Regions from separate parts of the Homo sapiens genome. Here region 1 is linked to region 2. The links come from fine-mapping of genetic effects on gene expression. A gene starts in region 2. The other region holds a variant in brackets. All regions are shown on one strand. Distances are between the middles of the regions. Region 1 has its middle 35 kb from the start of DNAJC21. Region 2 holds the start of DNAJC21 (DnaJ heat shock protein family (Hsp40) member C21).

Region 1 (2,911 bases), 35 kb before region 2:
AGAGAGAAAAGAATGAAGCCTATGTGATATATCGGAATACTATAAATCATAAAAATATTCAAGTTTTAGGAGTTCCAGAAGAAGAGATGGACAAAGTCATAGAAAACCTATTTAATGAAATAATAGCTGAAAACATCTCAAGTCTTGCAAGAAATATAGACATCCAGATACAGGAAGCTCAAAGATCTCTAAGTAGGTTCAATCCAAAAAGATGTTTTTCCAATGCATGCTATAATCAAACTGTCAAAAATCAAAGATGAAGAGAGAACTCCGAAAACCACTAGAGAAAAGCATCAAGTCACATAAGTCAGATATAAGGGAATTTCCATCAGACTAACAGTGTATTTCTCAGCTGAAACCTTATAGGTTAGGAGACAATGGGACACTATATTCAAATGAAAGAGAAAAAAAACCCTGCCAACCAAGAATACTATCCCTAGAAAAGCTATTCTTCAAAAATGAAGGAGAAATAGTCTTTCCCAGACAAGCAAAAACTGAGGGAATTTATCACCACTACAGATCTTAAAAGAAATGCTTAAGGAAGTCCTACATTTGGAAGCAAAAGGACATTTTCTATCGCGAAAACACATGAAAGTATAAAGCTCACTGAGAGAACAGATGAGAAAGAAAATGAGGAAGAAAGAGGACTCAAACATATTCACTACAGAAATCCACCAACTGTAAAGGTAAACAATAAAAGAGGAAGAAGAGAACAAAGAATACACCAATCAGAAAACAATCAACAAAATGTCAGGAGTAAGTCCTCACCTGTCGATAGCAACCTTGAATGTAAATGGCTTAAATTCCCCAATTAAAAGATACAGACTGGCTGAATGAATTAATAAAACAATTCCCAGCAAGATGCAGTGGCTCACACCTGTAATCCCAGCATTTTTGGAGGCTGAGGCGGATGGATCATTTGAGGTCAGGAGTTCGAAACCAGCCTGGCCAACATAGTGAAACACTGTCTGTACTAAAAATACCAAAATTATCCATATGTGGGGGTGCAGATCTGTAATCCCAGCTACTCAGGAGGCTGAGGCATGAGAATCACTTTAACCTTGGAGACAGAGGTTGCAGTGAACCTAGATTGCGCTACTGCACTCCAGCCTGGGCGAGAGAGCAAGACTCAGTCTCAAAAAAAAAAAATCAAATCAAACCAAACCAAACCAAACAAGATCTAACTATAAGCTGCCTACAAGAAACTCATTTCACTTGTAAGGACACACATAGACTGAAGGGATGGAACAAATATTCCACACAAATGGAAACCAAAAACACGCAGGAGGAGCTATACTTTTATTAGAAAATATAAGGCTGGATG[C/T]AGTGGCTCATGCTTATAATCCCAATAATTTAGGAGGCCAAGGCAGGAGGACTGCTTGAGTTCAGGAGTTGGAGACCAGCCTGGGCAACATAGGGAAATCCCATCTCCACAAAAAATAAGAAAACTAGCTAGGCATGGTGTCACATGCCTGTGGTCCCACCTACTGAGTAGGCTGAGGTGGGAAGATTGCTTGGGCCCAGGAAATCAAGGCTGCAGTGAGCCATGATCATGCCACTCCACTCTAGCCTAGGCAACAGACTGAGACCCTGTTTCAACAAAGAAAAGAAATATATATAGAATTTAAGTAAAAAAATAAAAACAAAAAAAGAAAGAAGGTTATATTATTATATATGTCATATAATAATATATACAATGATCATCAATGATCACATATCATTATATAATGATAAAGGGGTCAATTCAGCAAGGGGATATAATATTGTAAATATATATGCACCAACACCAAAGCACCCAAATATATATAACAAATATTATTAGTGCTAAAAATATAGACTCTAATATAATAATAGTTGGAGAAGCCAACACCTCACTTTCAGCACTTGAAAGATCATCAAGACAGAAAATTAGCAACAAAAATGGACTTAATCTTCACTAGAGGCTGGGCATGGTGGCTCACACCTGTAATCACAACACTTTGGGAGGCCAAGGAGGGCAAATTACTTGAGCCCAGGAATTGAAGACCAACCTGGGCAACACAGGGAGGCCCTTTATCTACAAAAAGTAAAATTAGCCAAGCATGGTGGTGCATGCCTGTGTTCCCAGCTACTCAGGAGGCTGAGGTGGGAGGATCACTTGGGCCTGAGAGGTTGAGGCTGCAATGAGCTATGAATGCACCACTGCAATTCAGCCTGGGTGATAGAGTAAGACCCTGTCTCAAAAAAGAAAACAAAACAAAAAACAAACAAACAAAAAAAGCACACACACAAACCTTTACTATAGACCAAATGAATCTAACAACCTAACAAACATTTACAGAACATTTCACCCAACAACTGCAGAATATACATTTTTCTCATCAACAAATAGAACATTTTCCAGAAGAGACCACACAAGGGGTAATCAAAATTCATGAAAAAATGTATATCGTGAGGAAACTATACATGGATGTCAAAATTTTTTGCACTAAAACTTGTACTAACTTACTGTAACATAGCAGAACAGGATCTAGTTTGAGGCACTAAGAAGGATAAGACATCAGTTTGAAAAGAGAGCCTATCAGAGCTATATAAATTCTGCTAAAATTGAAGGAAGAACAAGCATCAAATTTACGGTAAAGCTTGGGTGGAAGATGATAAAATCATTCATGTTTTACAAAAAGTTTATGGGGACAATGCCCCAACAAAATTAGCAGTTTATAAATGGATAATTCATTTTAAGAAAGGACAAGGTAGTTTGAAGATGAAGCCTGCAGCAACAGACCATTCACATTAATGTGCAAGGAAAAAAATTCATCTTGTCTGTGCCCTATCTGAAGAGGACCAACAATTAACAGAAGAAACGATAGCCAACACCACAGACATCTCAATTGTTTCAGACTTCAACCAACTCTGACTGAAAAATTACAGT
Region 2 (2,911 bases):
ATGCTATCCTCCATACTGTTGAGTTCACTTTTCCAAATTGCATTCCTCTACGATCCAGTCCAAACTCCTCTGAGAAGGGGAAGACTCAATACAAAATGGTAACTCCCTCCCTGAATTCCTGGAGCATATATTAGTTGTTCCATTAATCTAACCACCAATTATGTATGTTGCGATTTTTTTCTGGCAGTTGTATTTAACTTTTCATTTGTGTAAGGCAGAAAGTTGTTTTCCTAACAAGACTCTAAGACCCCTGTCTCAGCATTTCCAAATCTACTTAGTAGAGTGCAGTGACTTGCATATATTGGATACTCTGTAACCGTGTTTACTGATGAATGCTAATATGAAAGCCTCTTCATATGAACCTCAAAAAGCTGAAAGTCAACTACTCTCTTAGTTTCCCAGCCTGGAAGATCAGATTACTTCATAAAAGTCACACAGGCCTGGATTACAGACCAATGAAACATCCAAAGGAAGGATACTTCTAAGTAAACATACAAACTTTACTGGGGAAGCCGCCTGATTAAAACCTTCCCCGGCAGAATCATGTCCAAAGTGAAGTACAAGGTCTGCTTAAACAGCTTATTAAAAGAAAAAAAAAACAGCGAAAAAAGCGCATCCCTATTGAAAAGATATTTTACTAGCTCCCGTGTCTTAACTTCTTAACTAAGAAACGAAAAGAGCCATACATCAGGTTGAAGTATCTGGGATTCCCGGACGAGGTGGAGGGCAGCGGAGGAAAAACACCGAGAGGCTGCGCTGCAAGGGACGCAGGGAAAAGCAAGCCTGGGGCAGGTCTGAGTTCCGAGTTCCCGACTGCTCCCTCGTGGTGTCTGCGACCCGGTAGCGGGAGCAAGTGAGGTTGTTGGACTGCAGTTTTCCCCCTACAGTGGCGATGCGGGGCCGGGGTCGCGGGTATGAGGAGATGGGGTGTGAGCCGGGGTGCGCCAGGGCAGAGCGCTTCGCCCACCGAGACGGGCAGGGCGGCTCCGGGCACTGGCCGGGCGGGGCAAGGAGCTCCTAGGCCGCCAGGTCCCTCTCTGCTGGCTCCGCGGAGTCCGCCCGGGGGAAGGGAAGGTCGGGGAGGGCCGGGCTTCTCCGAGTGGCCGCGGGGGCTGCGGGACAGGTACTTACCCGGGTGCCATTTCAGGGCCAGCTTCCGATAGGCCTTCTTGAGCTCCTCCTCGCTGGCGTCGCGCCGCACCCCCAGCGCCTCATAGTGACACTTCATCGCCCGACCGGGCGGGCGGCCGGCGCTGGGGCCCGGGACGGGGTCGGGGCCCGGGCCCGGGCCGAAGCGGCGGCGGCGGCGGCGCTGGCAGTCCTCTCCGGCGGGAGTCCGCCGCCCGCACCGGGCCAGCCAGCGAGCCCGGCGGCGGCGGCGGCGGCGGCGGTGGTGTAGGTCAGTGAAGGCGCGCGGTGGCGGCAGACGACGCAGGCTGCGGCAAGCGGGAGCGCGGCGGGGGCGGTGCCGGCGGCCGCCGCTTCGCATGGGCTAGGGGTGGGCTCTGTGCCGGAAAGGGCCGCGCGGGAGGGGGTGGGGCCTCGGCGGGGTGAGAGGCGAGGCCCCGAGGAAGGAAGGCGGGGCCTTGGCGAGGAGAGAGGCGGGCCGCGCAGGAGAAAGGCGGGAGCTTGGCGGGGAAAGAGGCGGGCCGCGTGGGAGGAAGGTAGGCCTTGGCCGGGAAGAACAGGAGGAAGGCGGGACCTTGGTGTGAGAGGCGGGGCCTCGGCGGGGCGAGAGGCGGGGCCGCGCGGAAGGGAGGCAGGGCCACGCTGGTGTCATTGTGAGGGGCACAGATGGCGGTCAGTGTGAGTGGCAGCCGACCTGAGGGCTGAAGGGGGAGATAGGAGCTGGGATGGGAGAGGATTCTGGAAAATATCTGATTATAATTTCTCAATGGATCCCCGTTTTTATAGATAAGGCGATTCAGACTCCAAGTGGTCAAGTGGTTGGCTCAAGCCTCCTCAGCTAATACAGTAGCAGAATTCGGTTGGACTGAATATCAGGTTTTTTTTTTAATCTCTTTAATTCTCTTCAGCTGCCACTTAAGATATCTGGTATTGATCATCTTGACCAATATGCTTGAGAAAGGACAGTTAGATTATTTAAGCGGAAACAATTTAAAAGGGAAGCATCAACACACTTAATGAAAAGCCTTACCACCAACATGGATGAAATTGTGCTGATCTATCCATCCAACACACTTTAATCCTAACTTTCTGGCCTCTAATCCTACCTTTCCAAGATTGGTTTAGGTTAAGAAAGCAGTTAAAGGATAGTATTTAACTGGTAGGTTTTGGTTGATCTGACTATCTGCACAATTATTCCAAACACTTTGAAAGGTATCAAAATAATACCATAATTATTAAAATGCATTAATACACCAATATATTTCACTGTAATGTGGAATGTTTACATGCATCAGTTAGGTGTGGGTTGTATTTACTAACCATGTATGGTTAGCTATGTTGCTAATATCTATTGCACAGGGTTGGCGTACCCAAGCGGTTTAGTAAGGTTATCCTTCTCTTCCCCAATATGCTGCCCCCAGTAAAATAAAAAACCCACGCTAAGCTTCATCAGGTTACTTCACACGCCACTGACCAACCAACTCACTACTCAGAATTCATACACTTCCCTTTTTTCCAGAGGAAGATTCTACACAGTCTCAGTTAGTTGGTAAATTGGTAATGGATAAGGATTGAGAAGTCTGAGTTTGGGGGAGAATGAAACCTTTCCCCTCCTGAGAACAGAATTGGGATGGTGGGCGGGGGGAAGGGAGGGACAAAAAAAAAAAAAAAAACGGAAAGGGAAAGTATTTTTTTCCCTCCAACTTAATTTGGAGTATTTTCTCCCTCCAACTTGATTTGGTTTTGGATACAGCCTGTAGGAATCACTTACTTCTTTTACCTT

The links.
Region 1: its variant is fine-mapped to the expression of DNAJC21 in whole blood (INTERVAL, PIP 0.98).

What each region holds. Positions count from the first base shown.
Region 1 is chr5:34,963,574-34,966,484 of GRCh38, reverse strand. No RefSeq gene overlaps it. Among named protein-coding and RNA genes, the nearest start is that of DNAJC21, 35 kb to the right of the region's middle. The variant C/T (reference allele first, on the strand shown) is at 1,325.
Region 2 is chr5:34,928,137-34,931,047 of GRCh38, reverse strand. DNAJC21 (DnaJ heat shock protein family (Hsp40) member C21) reads right to left here and starts at 1,489. Exons shown (of 12, transcript NM_001012339.3): 1 at 1,132-1,489. The coding sequence starts at 1,228. LOC124900961 (a long non-coding RNA gene) reads left to right here and starts at 1,367. Exons shown (of 2, transcript XR_007058731.1): 1 at 1,367-1,399; 2 at 1,915-2,911. RefSeq lists enhancers at 724-893, 360-1,005 and silencers at 1,034-1,233, 1,264-1,333, 1,344-1,813.